2 linked regions of the Homo sapiens genome follow. The protein of the gene in region 1 interacts with the protein of each later gene in a pairwise test. Each region holds a gene or a part of one and is shown on either strand. Other genes may lie near its edges.

Region 1 (8,312 bases):
AACATGACATGATTGTTTGATGAGTCAGTTATACAGAAGAGATATGGAGATCTACCTGATTCTTTGTTTAGGCAATCAAGTGTCTGCGGTGCCATTTGTCAAAAAAATGAATGCAGAAGAAGGCTTAGTTTGCCCCCACAAAAGTGAATACTTCAATTTTCAAAATGTTACAGTTGAAGCAGTAATTTCTAGCTAAAAGATAACTCAAAGTTCAGAGCTTAAGAACAAGTAGTATAGATAGAAGCCAAGGGTATGTGAGATTGTCCACAAAGAAAATGTAATATAAGGCCGAGCGTGGTGGCTTATGCCTGTAATCCCAGCACTTTGGGAGGCCACTGTGGGTGGATCATGAGGTCAGGAGTTCAAGACCAGCCTGGCCAAGATGGTGAAACCCCATCTCTGCTAAAAATACAAAAACTAGCCAGGCATGGTGGCACATGCCTGTAATCCCAGCTACTCAGGAGGCTGAGGCAGGAGAATTGCTTGAATGCATGAAGGGGAGGTTGCAGTGAGCTGAGATCGTGCCATTGCACTCCAGCCTGGGCGACAAGAGTGAAACTCCATCTTAAAAAAAAAGAAAAAAGAAAATGTAAAATAAGAACAGAAGGGAATGAAATCCTGGTGAATAATGCTAAAGGGTAGTTGCAGAAGCAGAAGCCAAATACGAAAGCTGTGAAGGTTTATCAAGAGAGATGAAGAATCAGAACAGAGAAAAATGGCACAAAAATTAAGGGAGAGAATAATTAACTTAGATATAGTTGTTAATTCCTAAACTTTTTTTCAGAAACTTAATGATATTTTACCTCAAGGATCATGATATATACTTTTTTATGAGTTCTAATGTGCTTATGTTAGTAAACTAGAATATAATTTTTTATTATTTCTCACTATCCAGAATGTGTTCAAAATACCCTACTGATGTCATACAGCTTTCATTACATCTTTTGCAAATTTCAAATCTTTAGAATGAAAAATTATCTCTAAAACCAAAATATGATGCCATATATCTTAAATTAATCCATAAACTGATTTTTTTTTCCAGGATTAATTATTCTTGACAATACCCCTATTTATATTGAAATACACATTTTGAGGTCAGATGCAAAACAAAAGCTACCTATAACAATATGTATGCCTTAAATACTGTAGAGGTTGTAAGTTATCTAATGGACTGATATTTGAACAATATAACACATCTTGGAACGCCATGCTCTTAGAGCACTAACTAGAGTTTGAAATCTTTTCATGAAATCTACTTGAGTGGTGCTAAAGATTTTATGCAGAAAACTGAAAACAATTTGCATATGGGAGTAACATTCATCAGCTATATTGTAAATATTATTTGGAGGCAATCAGAGAGAGACACTTTAAAATTCCACATCACTCTGGAGAACCTAAGGCACAGATACAGATGATTTATTATGTTTTCAAAAAGTGACAAAAGGGAATATTAATTCTGGAAGATTTTTAATCAATTTAACACTATTATACATTAGAGGAAAAAATTTTGCACAAACATTCCCTCACAAAGCCAGTAGTCTTATATTTACATAGCATGATTATGGTAATTTAAAATGTTAATCTATGATACAATGTTACTTCAGAAAACATATAATAAAATATAGTTGTCTTATAGCCATGCTCCCATTTTTGATGAAAGCTAGTTAGCAAATCCTAATGTTAGTTTAATACTTTAAAAATGCATAACAGATATTCAGTCAGCATTATAAAACCTTTAAGACAGAAGGCTGTCAAGCAGAATAGACAGAGGGCTCATCATCACTTATGTCTGAATCTTCATCTACTCCTTCAATAACCGATTTCTTCCCTTTACAACAGGATACAATTAATCCAATCAAAAATACCTGTAAATTTAAATAAGCCATGTGTTATTTTTCAAATTTAAAATCATCTGGAAAGTAATGCTTTAAAATTCAATGACAGTACTATGATACAAATGGCCTAGTAAGATAAAAAGAGTTTACACATTTAACTATAATTTATAAAGGAAGGTCAAATCACGCGTGGGATATCTGCACTTACCCCAAGAAAGGCCCAGTTACCAAAATAGTAAGCAGCACTGAAGAACCAGAACTTGTGAAGGAATAGGTATGTCCGGGTAACAGTACACTGATCTGTGAAAGCAAATAAAAGACTATGGTGAGATAGGTTCTTTCATAAAATTGATGATTAATACTTTCTCTAAAAGATTATTAACCAAAGCTAATGACTAAGATCATATGGCTAGTAAGTGTCAGAGATGGTACTGAAACTTAGGTCTCTCTCCAAAGCCCACTCTTTCAATCACCTTAATGTAGTGTTAAAAACTGCCAATTAATATGACATATTAAAAAAAAAATGAATGCCACCAATGCAATCCAGATCTTAAGTATAAAAAAATCATCTTGACTAGTTTGCTTTACTGGAAATAGAAGAATCATTTTTACTTGGAGTGTCAGACATATCATAAAACAAAAAAAAAGTTTTCCTGATGAACATCAAGAAGAAAGAACAAAGTAATCAGATGTGGTCAGTATTAAGTTGCACTTGTAGGGGCAGAAAGGTCTAATACCTTTCCTCACCCATTGTAAGTTTCACGGTCAACACTCCTATAACAGAAGACAGGTTAACAAGAGAAAAGCATAACAAATTTATTTAGTCAGTTTTACATGACACAGGAGGCTTCAGAAATGAAGACTCAAGGGAAAACTGTGTATTTTCAAGCTTCGTCAATGAAGAATGGAGAGCTAAGAGCTAAGAATAGAGAGTAATTGGACAAAAGTGTATAACCAAATGGTAACAGACTGAGCGGGGAAAGCCAGCAAGGTCTGTATGTTCAGATTCTTCCTGGTCTTTCTACACAGCATCCCCTCCTTCAAGGTATAGGGCAGAACTCCTTTTGGAATGAGGGTCTTATGACCTACTATTAGACAAGGTAGGTCATAGAATTTCTTTATGGCCAGCTCCTACATAGAAAGGCAGGGGAAGGTTAGAATAATATTTCTAGGTTTATGGCTGGCTTTGGAAAAGTGGGGTTCTAATTTCTATGACATGGTTGGGGGAAGAGAAGTTCCAGTTTCTATGGTCTGCCTTGGGAGAGAAAGGGGAACAGAAGAAAGAAGGGCAAGGGAAGGTTGAAAGGATACTTTGCTTCTGGGGGTCTTCCAATATCCTTCAGTTCAAAGTACTTAGCATGTTACAGTGTGTGCTATCATTTTCTTATCCCCAACACACTTTTCTAAGAAACCAATTCTCACGGCAGCTCAAGCTTGAGAGGTTTCTTTCAGCTTTTATCTTTTTATGACTGCTATTGAATGGATGACTACTACTTCTAAAGAAATAGGAAAATCATTATTTACTGATGTGATTCCTGTTTGAACTTTAGACGGCATTATAGATGTAATTAAAAATAAATCATATATTTTTCTCCTTCAAATAAAATGTAACTCTCAAAGAGAAAGTAGCAGACTGGTTATTTGATATTTGTGTAAACCCCATATTAGTTTTGTACAAATACATTATTTCCATTAGTTGCAAAGTCATCTACACATATTCAAGCCATTCAGAGAGGCCTGTGGCAACACAGTACAGTTGACCCTCAAGCAAAACAGGTTAGAGTTGCCAACCACCACACACAATCAAAAATCCACATATAACTTTTGACTTCTCCAAAACGTAACTACTAAATAGCCTGGTGTTTTCTGGAGGCCTTACTGATAACACGAACTATAGATTGACACATATTTTGTATGTTATGTATATTACATACTATGATCTTACAATAAAGTAAGCTAAAGAAAAGAAAATGTTATTAAGAAAATCATAAAAAGTGAAAATATATTTACTATTAAGTGGAAGTAGATTATCATAAAGGTCTTTATCCTCATTGTCTTTACATTGAATTGGCTGATGGGAAGGGGAAGGATGGGGAAGAGGAGGGGTTGGTCTTGCTGTCTCAAGTGGCAGAGGTGGAAGAGGTGAAGGAAGTAGAATAGGAGGCAGGAGAGGCAACTGAAACTTTTATTGAAAAAAAATCTGGCATAAGTGAACCCATGCAGTTCAAACTTGTGTTGTTCAAGGGTCAACTACATTATGTAATTGAGTGTAAAATTATATATGCTGCATCTAATAGAGGATACTAACCTCACAAATTTCAGAAGGCCTACTTCTTTTCAGTCTGTTAATTACAAAATAAATTATAATTTCTACATATTTTTATTCAAAATGGACAATGGCAAAAAGATCCTACATGCAATTAGAAGACCAATCTCATATCCTATTGTTAATCAAGAAAATACACCTTTAGTTCTATTTTTCTGAGCTCTCTTCTCAGCTTCAATAAGTAAGTGTTCTTTTCTCTCAAAACATAAAATTGAGCTGAGGGCTACATAGTCCAGCTTATTACATAAGGGATCTAATAACACTTTTTTTGTTCCTGTCACATGGTTTTCCAAAAATAGCATTAAAGTTATATTTTATCAACATATAAGACTTGTTACATAAAGCTTCAGATATGTGATGTAAAGATTTAGATAATCTAAATTTTATCTACTCTAAACCCTTCCACTGTACTTCAACATTTACTTCTGAATTGCTCAATACCAAACTGAACAAACCTGTCTCTTTCTGGTTAAAACAAAAAAAAAAAAACAAAAACAAACAAACAAAAAAAATCACACAGTTTAATAAAGAAGCAACTTCTTCCTTTTAGGAGCAAGGACTACCAATCTAATTCCTATCTATTGAGCCCCCAAAAGCTCCCTTCAGAGTCTTTCTTCTCTTTATCAACAGAAAAGTCTAGAATGAATATTCACAGTTTTCTAAGAAAACCAGAAAGCCTTTAAGCAGCATTAGCTGGACATATTTCTGTCTCCTATAGTTACCATAGATGAGTACAGCTTTACACTAGGTGCTGGGAGTTCAGACTCACAGCAGAGACTCCTGGATAGAAAATTTGTCATTTACTTCGTGCTCCCACCACATTTTATTCTCACTTTTATTACAGAACTTACTTCACAGTGATATAGCTATTCAATTTGTCATTTTTTTTCCAGTAGATATACTGAGTATCCTAAAATACCATTGGAGTACTCAAATCCATTCATATTCAATGACTGTTGACGTTAAAAGGGGATATTTTAAATTTATATTAATTAAATAGCCCATTTTCTAATTTTTAAAAATTGAAATCTGACAAGATTCCAAGGGTATAAAAATGAGAAAATTGAATATATCTTGAAATTAAAGCATAACTAAAATGTCCAGCATGGTGAACGAAGAGCCCAGGCTCCGGACTCTGACAGACTTGGAGGTGAATAGCATTTGGTCACTTTTTTGCCATGTGTACAGGCAAATCTGAACTGTGGAGCCTGTGGACTTATAAAAAGGGGATATCACCATCTTTCCTCACAGAATTGCTATAAAGATCATATGACATATACATCAAAAGCCCCAGGCAAAGTGGCGCTTAATATTAATTTTCTTCCTTTTTCCTCTGCAAGGTATAGAGAACAATTGTGAAGAGCTACTCAAATGGTTGCAAGTCTTAAGATTTCAGACACGCATGTCCAACAGTAGGAAAATAATTGGTTAGTCATTAATATCATGACTACTCTGTGCATGCCCATTATTTTTCTGTCTCTACAGTTGAAACAGACACAAATGGATTTGGCAAAATTCAAATTTGTATAATCAGTATCAGCATACACTGCTAAATATACCTTTAAATAACCAATTTGAATGTTTCAAAAATGAAGAGCAGGGTAGGCTTGGACCTACCCAAAAAATGCCTGTTCATAATTATTTTAAAAACAAGAATGGTATCATTCATGGTTTAAGTATTACTTTAGCTTCATTTTACAAGTATAAGCCTGTGAAAAACTCAACTTTCTCAATACTGCTAATGCTGTAAACTTAAAAAATAAAAGTTATTTCACTCATTTCCATACTTATGATATTTTGGGAGTCAGAACTTGACAAAATTAGAAATTTCAGGGCCAGAACAGGGCTAACAAAACAGAGGCTGAGCTGGCAGAAGCAAGATAAATCAAATCATTCTTCTCCAGACATCTAATAATCCACTTAGTGACATTTTAAATTGGCTTATACTCTCTGACTCTTGCCCACCACCAAAACCATATCTTAAATATTTTTTTGATCACATTATTTTACATGTTTACCTTTTTAAAAGGTTGTGGACTTTGACAGAAGCCTTTTAAAATACCATAAAAATGTATCATCATTCTGCGTTGTTGTTGAAAAATGATAGAAGGCTAAAAATCCACACACACAATAAGTAACAGCTCTTTATATGCATCTTTATACATATATATCATTTTATTTCTATTAACTGGGATATACCCATATAAAAATTTTTGCTAATAAGATGCATGCATATATTTCCTATTCAAGTGACAATTCCACCCTGAATAAATGGAGGGGAGTGCCGTTCTTCACCATCTGCCATCTTCCAGCTGCTCACCTGAATCACAGATATCTAGGAGATATATAGATTTCTTTCTATAATTATCCAACTAAGAAAATCACAATAAAGGTTCTGAATTTGGTTTTACCTTCAAAGTAAATTTAAACTGTTGGATATTTCATTTAGGAATTGTGTTCTAAAATCAGAAGTATTCCAGAAACTTCTGACTGTTGTTCCTCAAAAGAAAATATAATTGAATTAAAGATTAAACTTCCAATTAAACTAAAGATTAGATGTTAACAATGAACACTAAACATGGGGGAGGGGGGCTCAGATAATTTTTTTTTCTGATGAGAAAGTGGCCATACAAAAAAGAATTCAAAGGGCCAAAAAGGGGCATCTGAAGCATATGAATAAAATCAAGACTTTTGAATCCTGCTACTACCACCATTCCTTCATCTCTTCTCACATATCATCAAACAGAGAAATAACAGGAAATGCAAGTACACCATTTTTTTTGTAATTTAACAGCAGTCTTTAAGGATTTATCTGATAAATTTTATATTATATATTTCCTGTTTCCTTTGTTATGTCACTTTTAATGTATCTTGACTGCCACTAAGATAACTTTGGTTAAGTAGAATAAATAATACCTTTTATTTTAAATACATATTTTAAAAACATTTAATGTTTAAGCCACAACTGAGTCATCATGTTAAACCTTCACTTGAAATCAATTTATAATTAATTACTCTATATTTGCATTTTATAAAACAAAGCCTTATTTTACGTGTATATATATAGAAGACATTTGAGAACACTCATGTAACATGGAGAATAATTTTAAAACAAGCAATTTATTTGACTAGTGACCAAAAAAACTTAGAAGCCTAGACTATTTAGAAGCCACTTCATAGCTCTTGGCTGCCCATGACTGTGCCAATTGGTTCCTGATTAGGGTCTTGCTACTATTGAATATTTATAATGAACATATATATCTTAACTGTATACAGGCTAAGGAGCTTGGATTTTATTGTGATATGATTTGAAATTATTTATAAAATGGTTTTAAGAAAGAATAACAAGAGTGGAGTACAGACTAGAAGAGGAGATTGAAAGTAGAAAGAGGTTTACCAAGTTAGAAGACTATACAACTGGAAAAAATGAGCTCAGGGATGGGAAGAAAAAAGTTGGGATCTGTGAGATTTTTAGGATTTAAAATCCTAATGTTTTATCGTCAGATGGAATACATACACGTAAAAAGATTTCGGAAACTAATGAAATACATCCAAATAAATGGGAAGGCAGAAAAAATGAAGATATATAATAAAAACCAAAGTTGTATATTTATATTAAAATTTAACAAGTGGCATACAGTTAAATCAATGTTTTGTTAAATCTCACTGGGAGATTTAGGTAAAGGGGAAGAGAACTGATGAATGTCAAAACTCACAGAAATTTTGAAGGACACAGTTTTCTTATACTTTAAGAATACACAAACTGTATCAGGTTAATAAAGATATTTGCCAGATATTTTGCACTTAAGAATAAGTTTCAGAGTAACCATTTTTAAGAACAAGTATAATCTGTGTTGAGCTCTGGTTATATTTAAATAAGTTTAAAGCATTTCCAAGGTGCTAAAATATATATTTGCCTTTTAAGAAAGAATGCTACTAATTTCATTTTATTACTAATTGGCCATATAACACTCATTAAAAGGGAGTACAAGGTAAGTATTAGCATATAAAATGTAGAAATGGTATAATCACAATCTGTATAAGTGAACTCTAAATTACTGAGACTTACTATCTGCTGGTTGTAATTGTCCAAGGATAGTCAGATATAAAGCAATTGTCTTCTATTACTTTAACTTTTGATAAAATAAAAG
Region 2 (7,000 bases), about 35 Mb from region 1:
CACAGGTTGCTTCCAAATCTTGGCTATCATAAATAGTGCTGAAATAAACATGGGAGTGCAGATATCTCTTCGATAGATTGATTTCCTTTCTTTTGGGTATATACCCAGCAGTGGGATTGCTGGATCATGTGGTAGCTCTATTTTTAGGTTTTTGAGGAACCTCCAAACTATTCTCCATAGTGGCTGTACTAATTTACATTCCCACCAACAGTGTATGAGGGTTCCCTTTCCTCCACATCCTCACCAGCGTTTGTTATTGCCTGAGTTTTGGATAAAAGCCATTTTAACTGGGGTGAGATACAAAGTCATGACTTTACCTCTAAATATTTCATCATGTATCTAAGAACAGGGGCATTCTCCTGTGTAACTTTTCTACAGTAACCTTATTTTTCCTTTTTACATTTTCAAATCTTTTTACTATAGAAAAATTATACATTTATGAAATAGAATGACTAATACAATGAGCCCCCATTTATCCATCATCCAGCTTCAACAATGATCAACTCGTGGCCAATCTTTGTTCATCTACATCTCCTCCACATCTTGGAGCCAAATAATTTTCTGTGAAAAATCATGATGCTGCATCAAAAGAGAGTGATAAAATATGATTTATTGTATACGGCTGCATTTTATACACCACGTAATCATTGTAACTACCATATATACCTATTATGTGTGAATGCTATCAGCTGTACTATAGGTCTGCACTAAAAACTTAGAACAGTGGTTGCCAAATACCCATGCTGGTCTGTGACAAAATTCTTAGCACTATTTAGTGAAATGAAATCATAAAGATATTGTAATGAGTTTTCCTAAAGTTAATTCCATTTAAGGGACTGCTGTTTATTTTGACAATATTTCCTTTCTGGTTTTTTTCAGAGGTTAAGCTATCTTTTCTTTGATGAAATGATGATTTTGGTGGTGGTAGATGATTTTTATTTGCTTGTTTCACTGTCCATACTAGGCAAAACAAAAAGTTGGCAAGTTGTTTTCAGTTGCTTAAAATATTTTCAGAAATTTTATTAGTCTGTGAATTCCTAAAATCTGAGAACTACCGCTTTAGAAGACCAAATGACTTTGGCACTATTCAGTAACATCTGAGTATTATCTGTAGGGAGAGTTTAGCTTTCATCATGTATAGCATCAGAGACAGGAAAAGGAACGTGGAACCTTAATACTTAGATAAATGTTTATTTTTGCAAATTTCAAATTATTGTTTCTTTGCTGCTATAAATACGATTTTACTTTTTAAGAGAAAAGTTTTTCATCTGTTTCACTTCCTGCTTTTTTTTATAAACTAGCTATTTGTTAAAAACTTAGAACAGTGGTTGCCAAATACCCATGCTGGTCTGTGACAAAATTCTTAGCACTATTTAGTGAAATGAAATCATAAAGATATTGTAATGAGTTTTCCTAAAGTTAATTCCATTTAAGGGACTGCTGTTTATTTTGACAATATTTCCTTTCTGGTTTTTTTCAGAGGTTAAGCTATCTTTTCTTTGATGAAATGATGATTTTGGTGGTGGTAGATGATTTTTATTTGCTTGTTTCACTGTCCATACTAGGCAAAACAAAAAGTTGGCAAGTTGTTTTCAGTTGCTTAAAATATTTTCAGAAATTTTATTAGTCTGTGAATTCCTAAAATCTGAGAACTACCGCTTTAGAAGACCAAATGACTTTGGCACTATTCAGTAACATCTGAGTATTATCTGTAGGGAGAGTTTAGCTTTCATCATGTATAGCATCAGAGACAGGAAAAGGAACGTGGAACCTTAATACTTAGATGAATGTTTATTTTTGCAAATTTCAAATTATTGTTTCTTTGCTGCTATAAATACGATTTTACTTTTTAAGAGAAAAGTTTTTCATCTGTTTCACTTCCTGCTTTTTTTTATAAACTAGCTATTTGTCCTGCCTTCCCCCAGTGTTAGACTACTATTCTGAAAGTTTCTAGCACTGTCGTGGGGCATAGAGTGCAGAAAACATAAATCACTAGAATAGTTGGGTGAGTCTGTGTAAGACCAGTTTGATTAATCTAAATTTGGGGCCTACTAGATTGAGTGAATCTCTGAATAAAATAGAAATTCAGACTTGCATGGGCTCATTGTTGTCCACCATCAGTTCTTTCTGTCACAGGTCTGACAGAAACCGTTAATGAAGTTTCCAAGCTGAGCAACAAGATTGGGATGAATTGTGATTACTACATGGAAGAGAAGGTTTTACCTCCAAGCAGGTATAGACTCTTCTTCTTTCTTCATGTTGCTCATCCTGGCTTAGGTACTTAGCACTGATGGCTTCAGATCAGACTTGAAGCATTTTTATTTAATGATACAATGAGTATTTAAACTTGAGAGGTCTCAACAACTTAAACAGAAGAGTACTAAGTTGTAATTATTAGTACCAAAGAAGGCCAAGAAGCAAATGTTACTTAGTCAACAAATAAACCAAAGCAACACTTGTTGGAATAAATATGGTGGATTTCAGATCTCTGACAAACTTGGAGGAAGCAGCCTGTAGTACTATCTGCTGCTGCATAACAAATTACCCCAAAATTTAGCAGCTTAAAATAACATTTCATTTTTCCGTTTTGGTTGTTTTTATTTTTTTGGAGGCAGGGTCTCACTCTGTTACCTAGGCAGGTATGCAGTAGTATGGTCATGGCCTCCTGGGCTCAAGTGATCCTCCTACCTCATTTTTCGATTTTTTTTTTTTTTTTTTTAGAGATGGGGTCTCACTGTGTTGCCCAGGGTTGTCTTGAACTCCTAGGCTCAAGCAGTCCTCCCACCTCAGCTTCCCAAAGTGCTGGGATTACAGGCATGAGCCACTGTGCCCAGCAAAATAATATTCATTATGTCACAGTTTCTGTGGATGAGAGATATGGGCATGGTTTAACTGTATACCTCGGGCTTATAGTCTTTCATGAGTTGTAGTCAGTCTGCTGACTCTTGGCCAGAGGCTCCCTCAATTTGCCACATGGAATTTACTATAGGGCAGCTATATATAATGTACTATATATTATATACTAAACATGGTGTATATATGTATACTAAACATGGCAGCTGGCTTTCCTCCAAGGGAGAGAACAAGAGTGTGTGTGAGAGATGGTGCCCATGACAGAAGCCAGTCTTTTTGTTACCTGATCTCAGAAGTGACATCCCATTGTTTCTGCTACATTCTTTTTTTTTTTTTTTTGAGATGGAGTTTTGCTCTTGTTGCCCAGGCTGGAGTGCAATGGCGCGATCTCGGCTCACTGCAACCTCTGCCTCCCAGGTTCAAGCAATTATCCTGCCTCAGCCTCCCAAGTAGCTGGGATTACAGGCATGCACCACCACGCCTAGCTAATTTTGTATTTTTAGTGGAGATGGGGTTTCTCCATGTTGGTCAGTCTGGTCTCGAACACCCAACCTCAGGTGATCCGCCTTGTCCTCCCAAAGTGCTGGCATTACAGGCGTGAGCCACCGTACCCGGCCCGCTTCTGCTACATTCTGTTTGCTATAAATGAGTCATTACATCCTGCCCACCCTCAAGGGAAGAGGTTTCCACAAAGATGTGAATACAGTTGGCCCTTATATCTGTGGGCTCTGCATCCCGTGAATTCAACCAAGTGCATATAGAAAATATTAGAAAAATAAAAAATAACACAATAATAAAAAATACAAAATAATACAAAATTAAAAACCAATATGGTATAACAACTACTTACATAGCGTTTACATTGAATTAGATATTTAAGTAATCTAGGGATGATTTAAAGTTTATGGGGCCAGGCGCAGTGGCTCACGCCTGTAATCCTAGCACTTTGGGAGGCAAAGGCGGGTGGATCACGAGGTCAAGAGATCAAGACCATCCTGGCCAACATGGTGAAACCCTGTCTCTACTGAGAATACAAAAATTAGCCAGGCATGGTGGTGCGAGCCTGTAGTCTCAGCTACTCAGGAGGCTGAGGCAGGAGAATTGCTTGAACCCAGGAGGCAGAGGTTGCAGTGAGCCAAGATCACGCCACTGCACTCCAGCCTGTTTTGAGACTCCATCTCAAAACAAAACCAAAAAAAAAAAAAAAAAAAAAGCTTATGGGTGGATGTGCATAGGTTATATGCGATACTATGCCATTTTGTATCAGGGACTTGAGCATCCATGAATTTCCGAGGGGGATCCTGGAACCAATCCCTCTTGGATACCAAGGGATGACTGTATCAGGAAGCAGAGATCTTTGGGGTTATCTTGTCAGCTGCCTACCATATAGCTCCTATCAGCTACCCTTTTAAGTGGCTTCATACTAAACAGGCACAGATAAAGATTTTCTGTTAGTGGTGTTTTGACTCTTGGGATTTTTTTTCCCCCAGCTTCATAACTCAGCTTATTTATCAAAATCTGAACACTGTTGATAAAGAATGCTTCCATACCCACACCAGGCTTTATTTGTATTATTCTTAGTTATATTGACATTGTGGTAAAGAAGAACCATTCAGTAAGTATGAATTGAATTGGCTCTGCTGGTTTATTGACAATTAAGTGGGTAAATTTCAGTGTCAGATTTTTTTTTTTTTCTGAGATGAAATCTCGCTTTGTCGCCAAGCTGGGGTGTGCAGTGGCGCGATCTCAGCTTGCTGCAACCTCAGCCTCCCGGGTTCAAGCGATTCTCTTGCCTCAGCCTCCTGAGTAGCTGGGACTACAGGTGTGCGCCACCATGCCCAGTTAATTTTTGTATTTTTAGCAGAGGTGGGGTTTCACCATGTTGGCCAGGGTGGTCTCGATCTCTTGACCTCGTGATCCACCCGCCTTGGCCTCCCAAAGTGCCAGGATTACAGGCGTGAGCCACCACACCTGGCCCAGATTTTATATTTTAAAACAGTTCTTGGTCAGGCACAGTGGCTCATGCCTGTAATCCCGGCACTTTGGGAGGCTGAGGTGGGAGGATCGCTTGAGGTCAAGAGTTCAAGACTAACCTGGGCAACATAGTGAGACCTCGTCTCTACAAAAAAAAATTTTTTTTTAATTAGCAAAATGTGGTGGTGCACGCCTGTAGTCCTAGCTATGCAGGAGACTGGGGTGGAAGGATTACTTGAGCCTGGGAGGTCAAGGCTGCAGTAAGCTGTGATAGTGCTACTGCACTCCAGCCCAGGCAACAGAGCAAGACTCTGTCTCTAAAAAAAAAGATTGTAAATATTGTATCACAGATGAGGCTGAGAAAAGAAAAAACAATTGAAAAATAAAATTGTTCTAATTTTCCACCAAAAGACAAATAATAACAACTCGTGATTCATTTGCGTCCTTAAATGCTTTTGTCAGAGGGCCATTGTGGGGTATCTGTTACTAAAGGGCCTTTCTCCATCACATGTTGCTCCTCTGGTCTTCATGCTTCTTTGATTTGTTCTTGACTGATGTTAGCAAGTTTCCATGCTGGGAACAGGTTTTCACCAAACTCAGGTCTCTCAGCTTCTCTCTCACTGTTTAGAGATGTTTGTTGCTCACAGGGGAGGAGAGAAAACTGAAACTGGGAGAATGAGGTCTGTGATAGGGTGGTGGTGAGGGAGTTGCAGGCGTATGGAGGGATAGAGGGGTATGGCAGGTAGAAGAAACGAGAGAGGGAGAAATGAAGCCGGAGAAATAGTAGTATTCAGAACTGGGTTTCCAGGTATGGTGATATAAAAAATTATGTCGGGAAAAAGGCTGAAATTGTTTGAGGTTACTCATTATTGGCAGTTGGCTTTACCTTAGGTTCATAGGATGATGTTAATTACAGTTGTAGGCTCCTAAGGGAAATTTCATTCTCAGATATTCATTTACCAGGCATTTATTGAGTCCTTATTATGTCACAGGCAAAATGCTGGGTGCTAAGGATAGAGATATAGATAAGGCAGTTTTTGCTGTCAAGAAACTTTTGTAGGGGAGACAGTTGAATAATAGAAAATGACTGATTAGACTGATAAGTTCACTTGTAGCTATGCATATATAGAGTTTAATGAGAGTGTTCAGCTACCTGTGGAAGATCAGGGAAGATTTGCCTACAGAGGAAGGTTAGGCCTATGAAGACTTGAGTCTTGGATGTTGAATAAGTGCTTTCCAGGTGGTCTTGGTGTGAAAGGTTGCACCAGGTAGTGGTGACAACATGTCAGAGGCAGAGAATGGTGGTAGAACATGGTATGTTCTTTACAAGCGACTTGCAATGGCTGAGCCCAAGGTGTTACAAGGTAGAAGAAAATACATTGGAAAGAGAGGCCAGAGCAGTATGATATAAGGTAACATAAGCCATTTATCTTGCTGGTGATGGGGGAGCCCCCGAAGGACTTTAAATAAGCATTACATCATGTTGAATATGGCATCTGAGAAACAGCATTGTTTTTAGAGTGAATTGGTGGCAGTGTGGAAAACAGATTATAAAGGAACAAGACTAGAGGCAGGGAGACTAGTTAATTGTAAGAGATGATGGTAGGAGGGGGCCAGGCACGGTGGTTCATCCCTGTAATCCCAGCATTTTGGGAGGCCGAGGCGAGTGGATCACTTGCAACTAGGAGTTGGAGACCAGCCTGGCCAACATGGCAAAACTCTGTCTGTACTAAACATTTTTTAAAAATGAGGCAGCTGTAAACCCCGCTGCTCAGGAGGACTTTTCCAGGAAGTCATATTGTTGGAATCATACAGTATGGACCCTGTTCCGATTAGTTGTTTCACTTAGTAATTTCATTTAAGTTTCCTTTATGTTTTTTTGTGGCTTGATGGCTTATTTTTCTTTTCTTTTTCATTGTGTTTTTTTGTTTGTTTGTTTGTTTTTGAGATGGAGTTTTGCTGTGTCACCCAGGCTGGAGTGCGGTGGCACAATCTCGGCTCACTGCAACCTCCGCCTCTCAGTTTCAAGTGATTCTCCTGCCTCAGCCTCCCAAGTAGCTGGGATTATAGGTGTGTGCCACCACACCCTGCTAATATTTGTATTTTTAGCAGAGACAGGGTTTTGCCATATTGGCCAGGCCGGTCTCGAACTCCTGGCCTCAGGTGATCCGCC

The links. Proteins that work in one complex are often made in the same cells at the same time.
Region 2: the proteins of LMBRD1 (region 1) and TCP11 interact in binary tests that used the Homo sapiens proteins (3 or more experiments, as listed by UniProt).

Annotation. Positions count from the first base shown.
Region 1 is NC_000006.12:69,674,407-69,682,718, forward strand, and holds part of LMBRD1 (lysosomal cobalamin transport escort protein LMBD1), read right to left. Parts: intron 2,136-8,312; coding exon 2,044-2,135; intron 1,866-2,043; coding exon 1,752-1,865; 3' UTR 1-1,751. UniProt on the Homo sapiens protein: Lysosomal membrane chaperone required to export cobalamin (vitamin B12) from the lysosome to the cytosol, allowing its conversion to cofactors. Targets ABCD4 transporter from the endoplasmic reticulum to the lysosome.
Region 2 is NC_000006.12:35,131,340-35,138,339, reverse strand, and holds part of TCP11 (T-complex protein 11 homolog), read left to right. Parts: intron 1-487; exon of another isoform or gene 488-573; coding exon of another isoform or gene 574-649; intron 650-2,121; coding exon 2,122-2,233; intron 2,234-7,000. UniProt on the Homo sapiens protein: Plays a role in the process of sperm capacitation and acrosome reactions. Probable receptor for the putative fertilization-promoting peptide (FPP) at the sperm membrane that may modulate the activity of the adenylyl cyclase cAMP pathway.